Homo sapiens: one gene and its partners. The protein of the gene in region 2 purifies or fractionates together with the protein of the main gene of each other region. This does not show direct contact. Each region holds a gene or a part of one and is shown on either strand. Other genes may lie near its edges.

What was found.
Region 1: the proteins of CDO1 (region 2) and DBT purify together in Homo sapiens (affinity purification with mass spectrometry; 2 studies listed by BioGRID and IntAct, with this or other methods). This does not show direct contact.
Region 3: the proteins of CDO1 (region 2) and MTMR4 purify together in Homo sapiens (affinity purification with mass spectrometry; 2 studies listed by BioGRID and IntAct, with this or other methods). This does not show direct contact.

The regions. Positions count from the first base shown.
Region 1 is NC_000001.11:100,211,835-100,218,873, reverse strand, and holds part of DBT (lipoamide acyltransferase component of branched-chain alpha-keto acid dehydrogenase complex, mitochondrial isoform 1 precursor), read left to right. Parts: intron 1-126; coding exon 127-248; intron 249-2,674; coding exon 2,675-2,891; intron 2,892-3,890; coding exon 3,891-4,057; intron 4,058-4,923; exon of another isoform or gene 4,924-5,651; intron 5,652-7,039. UniProt on the Homo sapiens protein: The branched-chain alpha-keto dehydrogenase complex catalyzes the overall conversion of alpha-keto acids to acyl-CoA and CO(2).
Region 2 is NC_000005.10:115,806,658-115,813,696, forward strand, and holds part of CDO1 (cysteine dioxygenase type 1), read right to left. Parts: intron 6,602-7,039; coding exon 6,524-6,601; intron 4,659-6,523; coding exon 4,504-4,658; intron 3,041-4,503; exon of another isoform or gene 2,965-3,040; intron 2,037-2,964; exon of another isoform or gene 1,793-2,036; intron 1-1,792. UniProt on the Homo sapiens protein: Catalyzes the oxidation of cysteine to cysteine sulfinic acid with addition of molecular dioxygen.
Region 3 is NC_000017.11:58,497,639-58,504,677, reverse strand, and holds part of MTMR4 (phosphatidylinositol-3,5-bisphosphate 3-phosphatase MTMR4), read left to right. Parts: intron 1-189; coding exon 190-375; intron 376-457; coding exon 458-628; intron 629-779; coding exon 780-934; intron 935-7,039. UniProt on the Homo sapiens protein: Lipid phosphatase that specifically dephosphorylates the D-3 position of phosphatidylinositol 3-phosphate and phosphatidylinositol 3,5-bisphosphate, generating phosphatidylinositol and phosphatidylinositol 5-phosphate.

The DNA of each region.
Region 1 (7,039 bases), on a different chromosome or scaffold from region 2:
TACATTTAGACTATAAACTTTAATTTATTTAGATATTATAGGCCACATCTTAGTGGCCTTACTTTACATCTTAGTAAAAAAAAAAAATTTTTTTTCAACTGAAGTTAAGTTTTACCTTGTTACCAGATTCAGAAGAAGATGTTGTTGAAACTCCTGCAGTGTCTCATGATGAACATACACACCAAGAGATAAAGGGCCGAAAAACACTGGCAACTCCTGCAGTTCGCCGTCTGGCAATGGAAAACAATGTAAGTTCTCTTAATATTTAAGTCTGAGATTGTATAGGAAGTGTACATTTGTATCTCTGAAAAATTAGCCAACTATCCCATGATGAAATAGCTCAATGAAATTAAGGAAACATGAAGATATTTGCTACTGAAAAGCAATAGTTGCATAAAAATACATGGGAGAAATGAGAAGTTGTAAACTTATTACTTACTATCAATTGAGCAGTATGATTTTATTATTCTTTCTTAGAGCCTAATAACAGTAAGAGCTACCATTTACTGAGCACTTGTAAATACCAGGTCTTATGTCAGGTGCTCTAGAGGCACAGCATGAGATAGGAATTTGAAGGAGGGAAAACCTGTAAAGGGACTGAAGGAAGCAAGATAAAAAAGAGAAGAGAAGGGAAATTGGCCAGACATGGTTATGGTATCAAGCATCTGGCCTGTCCCAAAGCTTGCCATGGTCCTAAGTAAAAAAAGAAAGACTCTGGCCTGATCTGAGGGTGCAAGGGAGAACCACAGAATTACTGCTTTGAGGCAAGGAGGCCGGCCTTTTGTATTTCCTCTGCCAGTCATTGACTGAATGGAAGGTGGAATGCCAGGCAGGGTGGCTCCCTGGCACTGGGATAGGTATTTACGTATTCTCATTTAACCCTGTAAGATAAGGAGCTATTTTAAGACTTGGAGGGTTTAAGTAACTAGTCTAAAGTCACACAGCTAACATAGCAAGAGCCAGAATTCAAAAGTGAGTCTATATCACTCCAAAACCTGTGCTGTTAGATGTTATATAAACCTCAACAATCATTGCCTCCATTATTTGAGCACATATGTGCCAGACACTATAGACACATCTGTAATCCTCACAAGGACCCTGCAGGCAGGTTGATTAACTTATCTAAAACCAAGTAAGCTGAACTAGGGATTTGAACACAAATCTGTCTGGTTCTGAAACCTGAATACTTTCCACTGTGCCCCACAATGAGACTTTTTGTTTGTCTCTTTTTGAGAAAAGTAAGGTTGCTGTGGGAAAAAAATAAAAGTTTATATTTTGTGAAATATGTAATAGAGTCATTAAAATGTTCATATTCTTTCAGCCAGTTATCCTGCCACTGGGGAACTATCCCAAGAAAATAATCTAGGAATCATTCTTCCTTGTATTTTATATAGCCAAAAATTAGAAGATGCATACACATTCAAATTATGTTATGTATCCTTGATAAAATGTTATGTAACCCTTAAATGTGTTTAAGTATGAAGACCATTTAGCATAACAGAAAATAGATATAGTAACGTGGAACATTAGGTTATTAAGGGCATCAGATGAAATAATGATTTAACATTTTGCTTTGAAATCTATAAAGCATTTTAATAATTTTTTTCTTAATAATATAGAAAGAAATATATAGAAGAAATGTATGATTTGGCTTTCCTAAAACACTCCCTAAAGATGGGTATAGAATACTTGGGTAGAGTGCTTGTATGATTACTAAAAATTAAATATTGGATTTAGTTATCAGAAATCATCTTTTTTCTTTGAATTTGCATATTTATGAATTGAGTTTGTTTAAAATTAAGAACCAGTGGCATTTACAGTTGTTTGTAACTGCCTAAAAATTATTTGTTTAAATTTTCATAGTCCATTTGTTACAAACTTAGTGTTTGCCTTAGTAAAGTCCTTTATTATTTTAGTCATCCTTAGAGATGCACTAATACAAATGAAATGGGGCCTATCCCTAAGAAATTAATACATACTATATATGAGGAGATCATTCCAAGCTTTTATGTTTATTTTTATTTAAATAGAATTAAATGTTTTGTACTGATCTTTCCAAAGCAACTACCAGAAAAATAACTAATTTGAGAGAGCTTTTGTATTATGATTATTTAAGTTGTTACGTTTTTAACTGGTAGCCAGTGTCAGAAACATTGGTCTAAATTTGGTATAGCATTTAGTTTCTCTTAAATTCTCAGCTCTCCCTCTTCTTATGTAGTCCCCAAGAATAGAAAAGGTCGAGTAAGAATTATGCAAGAGATTTTAAAATACTTGAGTATAAAAATGTAAGTTTTCAGCTGGGCATAGTGGCTCACGCCTGTAATTCCAGCACTTTTGGGAGGCTGAGGTGAGAGGATAGCTTGAGGCTAGGAGTTCAAGACCAGCCAGGGCAACAGAGTGAGACCCTGTCTCTACAAAAAATTTTTTTAAAAAGTAAGTTTTCATAAATAGCTCTAGATTATATATAATATAGATACCTGATGGTTACCACATGCATATGTGAACAGTATATACAAAAGTAATGATTACTTAAGTAGAAAATGAAAAGGTTATTTCCTTTTACTAATTTATTGGACAGATATATTTTACTGTCAGTTGATCAAATTCCATTTTGAAACTTTAATGATGTTTTTAAATAGTTGTATTTTTGGCATTAAAATATATCATTTTTTAGATTAAGCTGAGTGAAGTTGTTGGCTCAGGAAAAGATGGCAGAATACTTAAAGAAGATATCCTCAACTATTTGGAAAAGCAGACAGGAGCTATATTGCCTCCTTCACCCAAAGTTGAAATTATGCCACCTCCACCAAAGCCAAAAGACATGACTGTTCCTATACTAGTATCAAAACCTCCGGTATTCACAGGCAAAGACAAAACAGAACCCATAAAAGGTAATGATAATAATAACAATACTATAAGGCAATAGTTCATTTATTTTGGGGGAAGCTACCTCAGTAGATAAATGTATATAATATGGTGTTTTCAAGTCTTACTGAAGGGAAAGTTCAACTTCAGTCAGCATATAATTTTTCTTTTCTTTTCTTTTTTTTTGAGATGGAGTTTTGTTCTTGTTGTCCAGACTGTAGTGCAGTGGCACGATCTTGGCTCACTGCAGCCTCCGCCTCCCAGGTTCAAGCAATTCTCCTGCCTCAGCCTCCTGAGTATCTGGGATTACAGGTGCACGCCACCATGCTCAGCTAATTTTTTGTATTTTTAGTAGAGACAGGGTTTCATCATGTTGGCCAGGCTGGTCTCGAACTCCTGACCTCAGGTGATCCACCCTCCTCAGCCTCCCACAGTGCAGGGATTACAGGCGTGAGCCACTGCGCCTGGCCATAATTTTTAAATGGTGAAATAGCATAGCTTTTCCAGGAAACACTTACAATTTATGTGTATCATTATCTTCTGAAGAGTAATACGTTAGCAGGTTTCTTGAAATATAAACTTGTATATTGATAATTGCTCTGTTTGAAGACACACAGGACATTTTAAACATTCACTATTTGTAGTTAGCTTTCAAAATAACTAGTTCTGATTTGTTATTTATAAACTCCTGGAATGATTAACTTCCAGAAGAGTGGCTTTGCAGGAAAGCTGTTAGGGAAATACATGGCTTGCATTCTTTTGAATTTTTTATATAACACAGCATTTAAAGCAGTTACCTGCTATGTTATTGCATTTGCCACTGAGTGTCATGATGCAGTCAGTGTTCCAGCTTTGAAATTAGTGACTTTCAGTGTAATGTAATGAAGAGAGTAGTAAGAGGAAGGGTTTAACTGAGAGAGTAAAAGACATTAGAGAACCTTCCATTTTAGTTTCTTTAAAAAAAAAAAAAAGGATGAAGAGATTTGAGAATTTAAATAAATGAATAACAATTTAATGCTTTTCAGGCTTTCAAAAAGCAATGGTCAAGACTATGTCTGCAGCCCTGAAGATACCTCATTTTGGTTATTGTGATGAGATTGACCTTACTGAACTGGTTAAGCTCCGAGAAGAATTAAAACCCATTGCATTTGCTCGTGGAATTAAACTCTCCTTTATGCCTTTCTTCTTAAAGGTGAGATTCATTCATTTCAAACAAGGCTTGAGTAGGACATTTATTTGTTTGTTTGTCTTTTTGAGACAGAGTTTTGCTCTTGTCACCCAGGCTGGAGTGCAATGGCACAATCTCGGCTCACTGCAACCTCCACCTTCCGGGTTTAAACAATTCTCTTGCCTTAGCCTCCTGAGTAGCTGGGAATACAGGCACCTGCCACCACGCCTGGCTAATTTTGTATTTTTAGTAGACACGTGGTTTCGCCATGTTGGTCAGGCTGGTCTTGAACTCCTGACCTCAGGTGATCCACCCCCGCCCCAGCCTCCCAAAGTGCTGGAATTCCAGGCGTGAGCCACCATACCTGGCCCCAAGTAGGACATTTAAATTTTGCTTTGCCAACATGCAATATGTTGACTGTGGCCTTGAATAAAAATATTACTTTTCGCAACATCAGATAGTTAGAAAATGTGCCATTTCTTTGTTCAATAGGAAATTATAAAATTGAGATTTCTGTACTATATTTTTAGCTGCTTATCTTTGAGCTAGGTAGAGACAATTCTGCCAGTTAAGTAAAGCCTCTGATCCTAAAAGGATCACTCCAACCAAGTCTTGGTTTGAACTAAAATGAGACTTGATATTAATTTTGCAATATCACTGACATATATTTAATATTTATTTTCATTTACTCAACCAACTTATATTGAGGATCCTGGGAATCATTTCTAGTGCTAAGCCTTGGGACCAGTATAAAATGGAGTAAGACCATCAGCTAACCTTGAGCAGCATACAGTCTAGCTCACATTAGTGACTGTGCAGCAGCTACCATGTGCCAGCCTCCATAGTAAGCATGCTGTATACATTATCTCTCTCTTTTTTTTTTTTTTTTTTGGTATGAATCTCATTTATTGAAAAGATTATTTCTCACCTTTCTCAAATTGAAGACTGCAAAAAATAAAAGCAGTGCTTCATTGAGTTGTCATGAGCCTGGGGCAGGAGCAGCAGCGCTGCCTCTCCACGCTCCGGGAAACCGCAGCTGGCGTGTGCCACATCGGTCCCACCTCGCTTTACAAAACAGTCCTGAAGCTTAATCAAATAAAACTATTGAACACAACATTTACATTAGAAAAAGAGAGCTGGGTGTAGGAAAGGCCGAGCCTGGTGTTCCCTTTAAGCGAAGGTGGCTCCACAGTTGGGGCATCTTCGCTCCCTCAAGGCAAAACAGCAAATGAACCCAAAGGGGAACAGGATGATGGCCAGGAAGATGCCCAGGAAGGTGAAGCAGTCCTGCAGCCCCCCGACCCTGCAGACGGGACAGCCTCCCACGACCACGATAGAGTTGGTAGGATAGCGGATGACGGTCCAGCTGTGGATGTTGTAGACCCTGGGATGGTGGGTGGGTGTCCGTGTGACGAGGTAGGAGTAGGGCGGCTGCGGGGGCGCGGCGGGGATGGCGCCGTAGCCGTGCGGGCCTCACGCGTAGTCGCCCTGGCCGGCCTCCAGGTTGTAGGCGGGCGGCCGCTCCTGCAGCAGAGTCTTGTGGTCCATGGCGGCCCGGCTCGGCTCTGTCGGCCCCGGCGGGGACGCGGCGCACGCCCCGGGTGGCTCGGGCCCCTCTGAGGCAGACGCGGGGCAGGGCCCATTATCTCTTAATTCTCAGAGTAACCCTGACATGTAAATATTACTGTCTCCACTTTCCATTTAAGGAAATTGGGGCTCAGAGAGGTTGAGAAACTTGTTAAGGACTTACAGCTAACAGGTGGAGAAGCTCTTTCAGGTTCTGGTCTGTTTTACTCAGAAGGACATACTGATGTCTGTAATGCCAACATGTCCAGTCCTTTCTCTACACTGCACCAAGACTGGTCTTCCGTAAATCAAATTACTGTAATATTCTCTGATTCTTTTCAGTGGTTCCCTTTCATTACCTTCAGGATAATTTGTATGCCATACTCCTTAGTGTGGCATACAAATGTGTTATAAGTCTCTGCTGCCTGCCTCTCCATTCTTACCTCACTCCCTCATATTAAGGTACCCATAATTGCTGGAATACACAATTCCACCTGAAGTGCCCGTTCTTCTCGATCAAACACCTGCAAATCCCAAACTGTGGTCAGGTACAGACTCCTTCTGTGGCTGTCACTATTTGAATTAAATACTTTTGTTTCCCACTGTTAACTTATCTCAGTGCATTGAGTGCTTACTCAGTTTTCTCTTCACTTACTCACTTACTGGGCGCTGAGCCTCATGAGGCAGAAACTATTCTTCTTTATCTCCCTTTTTCTTTCTTTCTTCTTTTTTTTTTTAGAAAGGGTTCACTTTGTTGCCCAGGCTGCTGGAGTGCAGTGGCACAATCACAGCTCACTGCAACCTTGAACTCCTGGGTTCAAGTGATCCTCTGCCTCAGCCTCCCGAGAAGCTGGAACCACAGGTGTGCACCACCACACCTGGCTAATTTTTTTTTATTCTTAGTAGAGATGTGTCTCGCAGTGCTGCCCAGGCTGGTCTTACAGGGATGAGCCAGCATGCCTGGCTATTTTGTTTTAAAATAAAACATAAGTTTCAGAACATTCGAAAAAATACTACACAGTATTGTAGAGGGGGAACAAATGACCTAATCCATTGACACATACCTTGTATTTTCTTGGACAAAATTTGGATTATACTCAAATATTTTTATATGTAACAGTTTAGACTAACCTTAGGGGTTTTTAGATAAAGACTATTAAAATTACAGTTATTGAATCAAATGCTTACTAAAACTTTCAAGTTGGCTGGGCGCAGTGTCTCACGACTGTAATCCCAACACTTTAGGAGGCCAAGGCAGGCAGATTGCTTGAGCTCAGGAGTTCAAGACCAGCCTGGGCAACATGGTGAAACCCCATCTCTACAAAAAATACAAAAGTTACCTGGGCATGGTGGCACACGCCTATAGTTCCAGCTACTCGGGAGGCTGAGGCAGGAGGGTCACTCGAGCCAAGGACGTTGAGGCTACAGTGAGCTGAGATC
Region 2 (7,039 bases):
AAAGATAGTAAGTGACACGCATGCATTAGCCTCTGCTCCTTCCTGAAAACCCTCTCCAATGGCAGTAAAAAAATAAAAAAGACATCAATATACAAAGACAAAATAGGAAAAGAGAAAACACTAACAAAAATTTGAAAGCTTAGAAAGTAAGATGGATAGCTTTACAGAGCAGAGAAAGCTAAATCCTAAGCTATCCATGGAGAAAACCAAGAAATAACCTGATTTATATCTTGAAACTCCAAATAGCACAGGAATTGACAGCACCAGGTACTTCTGGAAATGAGGGTAAAGATAGGCTGTAGATATAAGAACTGGTTTAAAGCTTGTTTATGAAGTAGAGTCTCAAAACCCTTTTACCAATTCTCTCTCTTCTTTCTTTTCAGCAGCAGAGTAAGGTCTAGTCTCTAGAAAGAGTGTAAGAGATCAACTTGGGACTGATGGAAATCAGGTGAAAAACAGGTGAATTAAACAAAAGCTTCCATACTGAATGGTAAAAATCCCTGCTTTAGTCATCACCTAGCTGCGAGAATGCTGCCAGACAAGATTTTTCTTTCCAGGCAGAAGATAGGAAGCAACTTCTCAGAGAATCTGATTGGCTCAAGAAAAAAGCTTTAAAGATATTGTCGCTGGAAGTTCCTGAAGAAAAAGTCTCTGCCAGACTATCAAAAAGTGAAATCCAGTTGACAAGCTCCACTCATGTTCAGGGTTACCAATTAATTTTTTTGTTCTTGGTTTTTAAATATTAGCACATTGCCAAGGTCACCAGACATTTGAGCAAGGCCTCTAGTATGAAAGACAGAGGGCAGAGCAAACAAAAAAGCAACCTGCAACAGAGACTACTCAGGGGAAGTGTTCAAAAACCTATCATTAATGTTTTCCTAGAAATAAGAGAAAATACCATAAAAGGGACCATAAAACAAAAAGAGGTTGAAGAAACAGAAACCAGAAAAGGGTTGGCAGGAAATGCTGAGGAAGACTCAAAGAACAAAAGGACAAAGACAGAAAATAGAAAAGAAAGAGAAAAAAAAAAAAGAGGAACAGTTCAAGAGGTTTAATATCTAAATAGGAGTTTCAGAAACAGAATTAAAAAAAAATTCAAAGAAATAACCTGTTAATGTTTTCCTGAGTCGAAGGACACGAATTCCCAGATTTAAAAACCCACTGAGTACCCAGCACAATGAATGAGTCATCAAACAAGATACATCACTGTGAAATTTCAGAATACTGAGGATAGAGAGAAGGCACCAAAAGAGAAGATCCCAAAAGTTTCTAGAAAGAAAATAGAAAGATTCAAAAATCAGAATGGGACCAGGTTTTTTTAAAAAAAAACAAAAAAAACAAAAACAGGGTCTCATTCTGCTGTCCATGCTGAAGTATAGCAGTGGGATCTTGGCTCATTGTAGCCTCCACCTCCCGGGCTCAAGTGATCCTCCCACTTAGCTTCCCAAGTATCTGGGACTACAGGCACCTGCCACCATGCCCAGCTAATTTTTGTATTTTTGGTAGAGATGGGGTTTCAACATGTTGTCCAGGCTGTTCTTGAACTCCTGGGCTCAAGCAATTCTTCCATCTTAGCCTCCCAAAGTGCTGGGATTACAGGTGTGAGTCACCACACCCGGCCAGCCCTAGGCTTTTGATAAGAACACTAGAAACTAAAAGACAAAGGAATTACCCTCATGGTTCTGAGGGAAGATGTTTATCAGGTGATAATCCATAACCCAGCTAAATTATCAATCAAGTTGTAGGAGTTGAATATAGAGATATTTAAATATATGGGGTCTCAAAAATTTACCTTCCATGGATCCTTTCTTGTGGAGCCATTGGAGCATATGCTCCACCAAAACAAGGGCATCAACCAAGAATGAAAAAAAATCATGAGATCAGTAAAGAGGGGATCCAGCCACAGGAAACAGCAAAGGGAAAGCTTGAGAGAATGTAAGCCTTACATTGTAAGGAATCTCAGGATCACAGCTCACCCCTGGCCTAGAGATCAACGAATCTGTGCTGAAGCAGTCAAGAGGCCCTGGGAGAGAGATCTTCAAGAAGATTAAACACACACACACACAAAAACAAAACAAAACAAACAAAACAAAAAAACGAGATGAAATACTCAATTAAAAAATGTTAATAAACTTACACAGTTACAAGAAAGTTTCAGGGATTAATCAAGTAATGAATTTAGCATAACTAATGTAGGCACCCCATGAGGCTTTGTGCTTTCTTCTTTATGATCTAGCTCCATGAGTGCACATCATAAAGAAGAATGAAGCATAGAACCAGAAGACTTAAGTTCTACTTCTAGGTAATTAGCGATGCTATCTTTGAACAAGCCACACATTCTAGGATCTTTCATTTTCCTTATTTCTAAAACTGGTGCCTAATTCTCAGATCTGCAAATTCTTTGATCCTGTAGCTTGTTGTGTTCATAATATACTGGCTAAAGCACAGTTTTGAACAAATGTTCAACACTGCAGGTCCACGCATCATCTAATGCATGCTGACAATCCTGCAAGCAAAGACCCTGCAAAAACAAGACACCCATCCTTTAGAGAAGCTCCTATTAATAATCCAGGCATTATTATTATATTTTGATCTTTGCTTCTTTTTCCTTTATGGTCATGGTGTACCCTCTGTCACAGTAATACTGGACTTTTCTTGGGGGTATTTATGAAGCAGAGTTAGGTCCAGGCCCGGTCGACCTTTTGCTCATTACAATAGGCAACTTGGTCTCCTTGCCCCAGTCCTCCCTTCTCCTCCACCCTATGTTGCATGCTGCCACCAAATCGATCAAGATATTCCCAATTATAACTCTGCTGACCAAAGAAAGTCCTTACTTTTAGCTGGTCTTGCAGGCCCATACCCTGAGCTCACTTTACTCTCCTGCTAATCCACTGACCAAACCCATTCTTCTTTCTTTCCTTCCCCCAATGCTTGAATAGTTTCCATTTTTTACAACAATTGTACCTTCACTTGTGCTCTTCCTTGTACTTGCAACATCCTTCCCCCTGATCACTATCCATCTCCACCCCTACTCCTGCATCTGTAAGAATCAGAGGTTGAAAATTTGTGGCTTTTAAGTTATTTGGGTAATTAGTCTACAGAAATAATTAACATATCCCACCGAATATTTTAATAATTGGCAAAATTTCATATAAAACCCAGAATTTCCAACTTCTATGGAAAAAGAAACCAGGTTGATCTCACTGGAGCTGGGTGGCCACTGCTGTCACCTTAATATGAGGCTTGTATACTCCAGTTCATACCAGGCCTCACCACAGCTTTATCCCTGATGTATACCACTTCCTTATCTGTTGAGATTCTATAGGTTTTTGCATTGAAGACCTTTAAAAAGCTTACCTATTCTTAAAGATCTGATCTATTTTCACAAGCACTCTGACTCCAGCTGAAAGTAATTATTCTGAAAGGTGTGTGAATGCTTTACTTCTGAAATTATTCTGAAAGCTTTACTGTGAATGTACAGACAACAGAATTTTCTTGGAAATCTGGTGTGCCTTATAGATAGCAACCCTCACATTATTTGGGTAAATGAATCAGAGCTTCCTGCCACATAGGAAACTAACATCCTTGTGTTATGTGAATGAGCGACAACTTCCCATACAATTTGATCTTTGCAAGTGACTTGTATATAGGCCAAATATCGAGGCCAGTAAGATTTATGGAGAAAAAAACTTGCTTTGCCAAAAAAAAATCCCCCAAAGCTCTATAATACTTTATATAGGTGGGGTACATGCTGATGAAGAACATAGGTTTTTCAATCAAATTGCTTAGGTTCAAATTCTGGTTGCCACTTAAAAGCTGAGTAACCTTGGACAAATTGTTTAATCTTCCTATGTGTTGGCAACCTCCTACGTAAAAGGGAATAAAAAACTATCTATCTGTCTCATATACATTTTAATGAGCTTTTTGGAAAGTTACTGTTCCTTTTAGGAATATGGAAATTAATCACTGCCTCTCTTGAAAAGTATTTGGCTATCCCATATCCCATTTAGAAAAGATAAGGAATTCTTGGTAAGATATGTATAAATCACTGGCCAATAACGTGCTTTGTAAAATTTCCCTCGAGGATACTTTTTAGGTATGCTATATGTATTTTAGAAAAACAGAGACTAGCTAGCATTCTTAATTAGTTACAGAACATTTTGTTCTATTTTCTAACACAAGGCTAATGTTTCCAACTTGATCTCTTTTGTTGAAAGACTCCACTGAAGTAAATTCATATTTTATTTTAACTGTCTTAAGTCTTGGCAAGTAAATGACTTTTCAGTGGATACTGATCTGCATGCATATGTTTTCAATAAGTGATTCCAACCAAGATACAAAGGCTTAAAAAACAAAACCTGCTATGTTTAAGTCATTTCCCAAGTATTTTAAATCATGACTCATGATCCAGGTTCTACTGCATAAAAAGTGTAAGTAACCAATATTTCAGACAAAAGGTCATGGTTCTTCCCACTTGCCCTTAGAAAAAGAATAAGATGTTACCATTGATGTAGGCACACTGGTTTTCCCTCAAGACTCTTTCAGACTTCTTGACCATCTCATTGGATTTTTTGTCAGGCCAGGCAAATAATGTCTCCTTTAGATTTCCCTGTAGCATCTTCAGAAAGCAGTGGGAGTTGGTATGATCATGAATACTGCTATATGTACACAAAATGACAACTGAACTCAGTAGATGGTCTAGTATCCAGACCTGCAGTAACAGTCTTCCCAGAACTGACACCTGCATACTGTCAATAAGCTATCTCCCCAGCCAAAATCCATTTCAGCTGAATTTTTAAAATGTTATCAACTTACAGTTCAACAATGTTCAGGGTAAAGTAATAATATATCATCTATATCAATTCATATAAAAGGTACAATTTTGATGCATACCCCTACTAATGAACAGTTTTTTTAACTTTGTTATACTACTTTGATAACAGAAACACAAAACCAGCAACACTTTATCTTCCCCCAAATACATATAACTCACTTAAACTGGGCTAGAATTTGATTATGAAAGTACATTAGAGAAATTTTAGAAAGGATTAAGACAATCATCCATAGTAATTGTACCACACTGAGAAGATCCACTTAACATTTAATGTTTTTTCCCCAAGGCTTTTGTCTTTTCTCCTTCCTTTGGGGAGCTGTGGGAGAGAAGGTATCTATATGTGTATTACCATCCTAAAGTTACACTGTATATAAAATGTTAACATTGTGTCAATTTACAGTGCTCTACCTGTGATTACCTTCCAACATTGGTGGGAAAAAGTTAATTGGATTTGAGGAAACAAAGGATTTATTTATGCAATCTCAGAGTGAATAGTATTTAAGTATATGAAGCAGTCGTGGTTACAGGGTTAATTAAAATATATGTATCTATATACATTTTGGGTATTCATTTCATCTATTGAATTTTATTAATTTATATATGTACCATAAAAAGAATTTGTTTCCTAAATCCACAGAGTCTAGTCCCACTCTGGACATAATGTGCTTTCAAAAATATTGAGAGAATGAATGGAAACACTTCATTCCATATGAGTAAATAAATGCACTCTACAGACCTAACTTTCCAAACACTTATAAATTCATGTTTTCTTTCATAAAAATGGATCTAAATTATTGCTTTTACCATTCTCAAGACTGAGAAAGGTATGTTTCAAAAGAGAGTAATACTTAGTTGATAATAAGACTGTCAAACGTGAAACTAAAGATAAATTAAGGAGCTAAGTTTCAAAGAATCAGTATAAGTTGCCTTTTCAGTAAAGAAACTAAAGAATTAACTTGAAGTAGAAAGAAATTTTCTGAATTTGCAATGCTTTTCTAGCTTCAAATCTCCATCCTTTGGTCTTTGGTCCCACGATTGTTTACACACCTCAAACACCACAAATGTCAAGTGTAAACACAATTTCACATAAAGTTTTACTGCACAGAAAACAGAGTATGGTTAACTTAAGGGGGTTACTTACCTCATTTGATTTACTATTCATTTTGGGGGCTGGTTTTAATATGTGTAGTGTATGCCTGAATGCCCTGTGCTAATTCCATTGATAATTTTTGTTGGGATTAGGGAACATTGTGAACAAGTAAGTAGAAAATGAGGGCTGGGTGTGGTGGCTCATACCTGTAATCCCAGCACTTTGGGATGCCGAGGTGAGTGGATCACCTGAGGTCAGGAGTTCGAGACCAGCCTAACCAACATGGTGAAACCCCATCTCTACTAAAAATACAAAATTAGCCAGGCATGGTGGTGCATACCTGTAATCCCAGCTACTCAGGAGGCTAAGGCAGGAGAATTGCTTGAACCCAGGAGGCAGAAGTTGCAGTGAGCTGAGATCATGCCATTTCACTCCAGCCTGGGCAACAAGAGTGAACCACTGTCTCAAAAAAAAAAAAAAAAAAAAAAAAAAATGAGATTTGTTACTACTTGTAAGACCTGTGGCTAGCCTGGTACTATATTTTTCATATGCTAGAAAACATGCTCTAATAAATATCTGTGAATGAATAGTTATTTTACCTGCCATGTCCTTCACCCCAACAGAGAATCATCAGATTAAATTTTCCATTTCCTTGATCCACAAGATTTCGGGTATACCTAAAAAAAAACAATATATTCAGAAGTTTTAAGTTCGTTGCTGAAACAAGCACTGGAAAAAATAAGTGTGTCACCAAGTACCATTTATTCACAAATGTTAACATTTCCACCTCTAAGCAACTTTGAATGCAGTTTTCTAATTAGAAATCCAACACAAATGAAAAATCCTTTTTCACAGTTCATTTTGAACCGCTGCATTTACAGAGGTAGCTGCTCAGTTTTAATTAATGGCACGGGAAAAATAACAGGAAAAAAACCGAAATTGCATGTTTCTCAATGTGACAGCCTCAAACTGATGGAGTAAGTTTCTCAGAGAAAGTATTTCCAAAGTGCATTACTGGTTGAGGCAAGAATGTTGCTATTGTTTTTTTTTTTTTCTTTTTTCTGCCTGTAGCTAAATCAAGACTTGAGAAACAAGGTTTCATTAAATAGCTGTTC
Region 3 (7,039 bases), on a different chromosome or scaffold from region 2:
GGTGGCTCTTTTTTTCTTTTTTTTTCCAACTCCCAAAGGCTTGGAAAATTGGTGGCTTTGAGTCCTCTTCTAGGTCCAGTCCTATTTTTCTTTGAAGCTGCCAGCTTCCTGCTTTGGGCAGTTCCCAGGGGAGTAGCACATCAGCATTTCCAGAGAGGCCCTATGTTTGAACAGTTTCTTTTTTTGCAGGGCTTCCAAGTGTTAGTGGAGTCTGACTGGCTGGATTTTGGGCACAAGTTTGGAGATCGCTGTGGCCACCAAGAGAATGTGGAGGACCAAAACGAACAATGCCCTGTGTTCCTCCAGTGGCTTGATTCTGTTCATCAGTTGCTTAAGCAGTTCCCCTGCCTGTTTGAATTTAATGAAGCATTCCTGGTAAGTCCTAAGGCCTGTGACAACAGGGATGGGGGGAATGACAGCCCGAGGCCCCCAGGTGCAAGCTCTCTCTGCTTTCTAGGTAAAACTGGTGCAACACACATACTCCTGCCTCTACGGCACCTTCCTGGCCAACAACCCCTGTGAGCGAGAGAAGCGCAACATCTACAAGCGGACCTGCTCTGTGTGGGCGCTCCTTCGAGCTGGCAATAAAAACTTTCATAACTTCCTCTACACACCCAGCTCAGACATGGTGAGTCTGAGCCCTTTTCCTGTAGGTGCTATTTAGAAACCTATAGGGAGAAGCAGCTGAGTCAGTAGGGAAAATGTAGAGTCAAGGGCTTAGGGAAAGAAAAAGGACAAGGAACTCTTGACAAAGCACTAGTATTGGGCTGCTTCCCTAGGTCCTGCATCCTGTTTGTCATGTCCGGGCCCTGCACCTCTGGACAGCTGTTTATCTGCCAGCATCATCTCCATGCACACTTGGGGAAGAAAACATGGATCTTTACCTTTCCCCAGTGGCCCAGAGCCAGGAGTTCTCTGGCCGCTCTCTGGACAGGTAAGAAAAGCCCTTCTTCCTTTCTCCTCTCTCCACTAGGAAGGCAGTAACTGTTTCCCATCTCATCTAAATGTTCTCTTTCTTTCTTTTTTTTGAGACGGAATCTCACTTTGTCGCCCAGGGTGGAGTGCCAGTGGTGCAATCTTGGCTCACTGCAACCTCCACTTCCCGGGTTCAACTGATTCTCCTGCCCCAGCCTCCCGAGTAGCTTGGATTACAGGCACCGACCACCACGCCCAGCCAATTTTTTGTATTTTTAGTAGAGATGGGGTTTCACCATGTTGGCCAGGCTGGTCTCAAACTCCTGACCTCAAATGATCCACCTGCCTCGGCCTCCCAAAGTGATGGGATTACAGGCGTGAGCCACCGTGCCCGGCCTCTTTCTGAGGTATTTAAAAGCAACTTCTTGAGTCATTTGCAGGAAAAACTTGGCCAAGACTTGTAGCTAGCCTGGAGTGCACTCTGTGTGTTTTCAAGGTCCTCTGAAGATAAGGTTGGATACTTTCTTTCCTGGAGGAGCTGCTATCACTCTGTATGATATACCCAAGCAGGGGAGAGAACAAAACAGAAAGGACTGTTTTAGGAAGGTTTGTGGGAATGGTCTTGATTTTTGTTCACTGGTACAGGGCATGGGGAGCTTGCTATATTAGTAGCAACCTTTGTTGTGTCCAGCATTAGCTTCCAGAAACATCTGACTCTCAGGGAAATGGGTTCCCAGCAGGAGGATGGCCTTATATTACTCCCTCAGAAAAAGGCCAGAATTTAAAAGGGAGACATAAAATTAGGTATCTTCTGGCTCAATGTTTGGGGAGAAGTGAGATGATGTTGGTTAATTTATGAGAGTAATACCTATTTCTTGTTTTAAAAAAATAGTCAATATAAAAGTAGAAAATGAAAATCTTCCCTTATGATCCTTGTCCCCACAGGTGTCCACTGCTAACATTTGGTACGTGTCTTTCCAAATGTTTATCTCTACATAGGTAAATCCACACTCACGCTTTCATATGGAAACATTTTTTATAAACAAAATCAGAATATTTTTACATACGCTTTTTACTTTTTTGCATATTCTGCAAATTGTTTTTCCCGCTTTGTATTAGGTTGTCTTCTCATGACAGCACATCTAAATTCCCTTTCTTGTTTTTATTGGCTTCAGAGTAGTCCACAATTTATATAACCAGATTCCTACTCATCATTTAGGTAATTTCCATTTTTTTTTTTTTTATCATTACAGGGAGTGCTTTACATCCTTATATGTGTAGCTTTTTAAAAATTTGTAAATTACAGGCTGGGCACGGTGGCTCATGCCTGTAATCCCAGCACTTTGGGAGGCCGAGGCAGGTGGATCACTTGAGGTCAGGAGTTCAAGGCCAGCCTGGCCAACATGGTGAAACCCTGTCTCTACTAAAAATACAAAAATTAGCCGGGCATGGTGGCAGGCACCTGTAATCCCATCTACTCAGGAGGCTGAGGCATAAGAATCGCTTGAATCTGGGGGGGTGGAGATTGCAGTAAGCCAAGATCACGCCACGCACTCCAGCCTGGGCAATAGAGTGAGACTCCATCTCAAAAAAAAAAAAAAAAAATTGTAAAATACACATGCTATTTACCATCTACACCATTTTTAAGTACATAGTTTAGTAGGGTTACTTTGTGTGTTTTTTTTTTGTTTTGTTTTTTTGTTTTTGACAGAGTTTCGCTCTGTTGCCCAGGCTGGACTGCAGTGGCACAATCTCAGCTCACTGCAACCTCTGCCTCCCGGGTTCAGGTGATTCTCCTGCCCCAGCCTCTCGAGTAGCTGGGATTACAGGCATGCGCCACCATGCCCAGCTAATTTTTGTATTTGTAGTAGAGACGGGGTTTTACCATGTTGGTCACACTGGTCTTGAACTCCTGACCTCAAGTTATCCACCATCTCGGCCTCCCAAAGTGTTGGGATTACAGGTGTGAGCTCCTGCGCCTGGCCAGTAGGGTTACTTTGTATGCATATTTTTGCATTTGTGCTAGTATTTTTGAATGAAAATACTGTGCTCAAAGGATATATATACATATATACGCGTATATATATATACACATATATGTATATATATCCGTATACATATATACATGTATACGTATATACATAGACATATACATATATGTGTGTATATATGTATACTATATATATACACACATATATACATATATACGTGTATATATGTGTATATATATCTCAAATTTTGATATTTGTTTATTGGCTGAGAGCTTTTTTGTTTTTTAGAGACAGGGTCTTGTTCTGTCACTCAGGCTGGGTGCAGTGGCACAATTATAGTAACCTCAAACTCCTGACCTCAGGTAATCCTTCTGTTTCAGCCTCCCAGGTAGCTAATTAGCTCATTAGGCATGTGCCAATTTTTATTTTTTGTAGAGACGGGTCTGTTGCCCAGGTTAGTCTTAAATTCCTGGCGTCGAGTGATCTTCCTGCCTTGGCCTCCCAAAACACTGGAATTACAGGTGTGAGCCACCATGCCCAGCCTGGCTGAAAGTTTTTAAAGTTAAAATATAACATATGTTATTGGTTGAATATTATAAAGGAAAACAAAAAGCCCAGCATCCCAAATTATTGGTTTTAGGGTCTTTTGAACTAAGTCATTGTGAGGGGACCGTGATAGGTTTCAGGATTTCAGTGATTTTTTTTTTCCTTCCCCAAACTATGCAGAATTTGGCTACAGGTTCATAGGTTTACTTTTCCTGGGAGAGGGGCCATAACTTTTAATCAAATTTTTAATAAGCTCTGTGACCCATTTAATAATCATTTCATTAACTTAGTATCTGATTTATCAATTCAACAAATGTTTCTTTAATACCTACAAGTTGCGTATTACTGTACTAGGTTTTGTGGGCTACAGCAAAGAAATAGAAGATATTGGTTCTACTTTCAAGATAATTTTAAGCTGTAAGATAAGACACAGAACAACTAGAGAGAGCAATTCTTTTTTTTTTTTTTTTTTTTTTTTGAGACAGAATCTCGCTCTGTCACCGGTTGGAGTGCAGTGGCGCAATCTTGGCTCACTGCAACCTCCGCCTCCCGGGTTCAAGTGATTCTTCTGTCTCAGCCTCCCGAGTATCTGGGACTACAGGTGCCCACCACCACACCTGGCTAGTTTTTTGTATTTTTAGTAGAGACGGGGTTTCACCATGTTGGCCAGGATGGTCTCGATCTCTTGACCTCGTAATCTACCCGCCTCGGCCTCCCAAAGTGCTGGGATTACCAGACCCGGCCAACTAGAGAACAATTCTAAGTCAACATCTAAGCAGATAAGAATGTGTGTAGTTCAGGCTGGGTGCAGTGGCTCATGCCTGTAATCCCAGCACTTTGGGAGGCCAAGGTGCGCAGATTGCTTGAGCCCAGGAGTTTGAGACCAACCTGGGCAACATGGTAGAACCCCACCTCTACAAAAAATGCAAAAATTAGCCAGGCATGGTGGCGTGCGCCTGTGGTCCCAGCTACTTGGAGGGCTGACGTAGGAGGATTGTTTGCTCCCAGCAGGTTGAGGCTGCAGTGAGCTGTGATCATGCCATTGCACTCCAGCCTGGGTGACACAGCGAGACCTTGTCTCAAAAAAACAAATGTGTGTAGTTCAAAGCTTTAGAGAAATGATGTGTTTTTTAAAAGGGTCACTTGGTGGCTGTTTTACTCAGGAAATTTTCATGAAGGACCAGACAAGAACTGTGGGTCTTTTTGTGTTCTGTGTATCTGGCTTAGAACCTGGCACGTAATAAGTAAATTTAAATAAATTTACTAAAGTAAAAATTTACTTAAAACTGGACAAATGGCTGGGCGTGGTGGCTCATGCTTGTAATCCCAGCACTTTGGGAGGCCGAGGCGGGCGGATCATGAGGTCAGGAGATCAAGACCATCCTGGCTAACACGGTGAAACCCCGTCTCTACTAAAAATACAAAAAAAAAAAAAATTAGCCGGGCGTGGTGGCAGGCGCCTGTAGTCCCAGCTACTCTGGAGGCTGAGGCAGGAGAATGGTATGAACCTGGGAAGGCGGAGTTTGCAGTGAGCAGAGATCGCGCCACTGCACTCCAGCCCGGGCAACAGAGTGAGACTGTCTCAAAAAAAAAAAAAACTGGACAAATGAATGAAATAAAGGGAGTTGTGAGCTCAGTAACAAGGTTAGTGGAGAGGGGTCCAAAGCAAGTGGATACATGAGAGGTAGGGTTTTCTCGCTCCATTGCCCAGCTGGAGTGCAGTCACATGATCTTCTCAGCTCACTCCGCCCACCGGGTTCAAGTGATTCTTCTGCCTCAGCCTCCCGAGTAACTGGGATTACAGGTGTGTGCCACTACACCTGGCTAATTTTTGTATTTTTAGTAGAGACGGGGTTTCGCCATGTTGGCCAAGCTGGTCTCGAACTCCTGACCTCAAGTGATCCGCTCACCTTGGCCTCCCAAAGTGCTAGGATTATAGGTGTGAGCCACTGCACCTGGGTGAGAGGTAGTTTTTTTTTTTTTAAAAAAAAAAGAAGTTCTGTGGCTGGCAGGGGTTGAGAAGGGGCTATTTTAAGGAATAGTGGAAATATAGGACAGGTCATTGAGGGCATTGAAGGCTTTAAACATTACAGTGAAGAGTTTATTTTGATTCAGTTGTCAATAGGAAGTCATTGTAGGAAGTTACTGTGGTCTGCTGACAGTGGGATCCTTGGAGAACTAATCAGTGAGTACAGGGTAGCTGGAGGCACAGAGACCAGCCAGCACTGCTGTAGTAGTTCAGATATGAGGGGAAGAGTCCCTGGCAAAGAGAAAGGATTAAATTCAGAAGCACTGTAGAGAACCATTGGCAGGCTACAGAATTGAAAGTTGGAGAGTAGAAGTGAAAAGTACTTTGGGTCCCAAGTATCTGAGCTTAAAAAGTAGGAGAATATTAGTACCACTAATAGACATTGAAAGGTCGAGAAGACCAGCCAGTTTGGGGAGAAAGCGGAGATACAGGGAAATTGGGATTGAAATATTAGTTGACAGCAAAGAAGGAGGTGTGTTGTAGGCAGCTCAAGATGGAGAGTAGATTTCGAGAAATAATTGGTATAAAGATTTTAAAGGAAATGGTCTCTGTAACAACTGACCTGACTTACCTTTGATTCTACCTTTCCCTAGATCAAAAATGTCCTTCTTCTTCTCCTTCTTCTCCCCCTCCTCCCCCTCCTCCCCCCTCCTCCCCCCTCCTCCCCCGCTTCTCCTTCTCCTTCTCCTCCTCCTTCTTCTTCTTCTTCCATTAAAGTCATAAACACATTCTTCTATACCCATCTCAAATCCTACCCTCTCTCTGTAGCCTTCCTTGACCTCCTAGCTGGATGAGCTCTCTCTCCTTGTTGTAAACTCAGGTATTATTATCTCTGTCAACATTGCTGACTAACCTTTGGTACACATAGAATGAGTTGTGGAGGATGGCAGAATGTTGTTATTTGAATTTGGATGAAGAGCACATGGAAGTTAATTATATTCTTCTTTTTGTTGTTGTTTGAGACAGAGTCTTGCTCTGTCACCCAGGCTGGAATATAGTGGTGCGATCTCGGCTCACTGCAACCTCTGCCTCTTGCCTCCCAGGTTCAAGCGATTCTCATGCCTCAGCCTCCCAAGTAGGAGCTGGGTTTACAGGCATGCACCACCATGCCCAGCTAGTTTTTGTATTTTTAGTAGAGATGGGATTTCACCATGTTGGCCAGGCTGGTCTTGGACTTGTGGCCTCGAGAGATCTGCCTGCCTTGACCTCCCAAAGTGTTGAGATTATAGGCATGAGCCACTGTGCCCAGCATATTCTTTACTTCTTTTGTATGCTTGAAAGTTTCCATAATAAAAAATAAAATGAAAGAAGTCAGCTGTGGCACTTAAAAGAATACAGATCCCTAGGCCCCACTCTTGGCCATTCTTATTCAGTAGGTCTTGGGTGGACCCTGGTTGTCTGGATGTCTAAGAAGATCCACTAAGATGCCTGATGTGTATCACACATTCAATTGGCACCTAGCAGTGGAAACCTCATGTTGTATTTTGAGCTCATTCATTCATTTCTCAAGTCATTTGCCCCTGGTACTGTGCTAGGCGCTGGGGATTCAAATAAGACA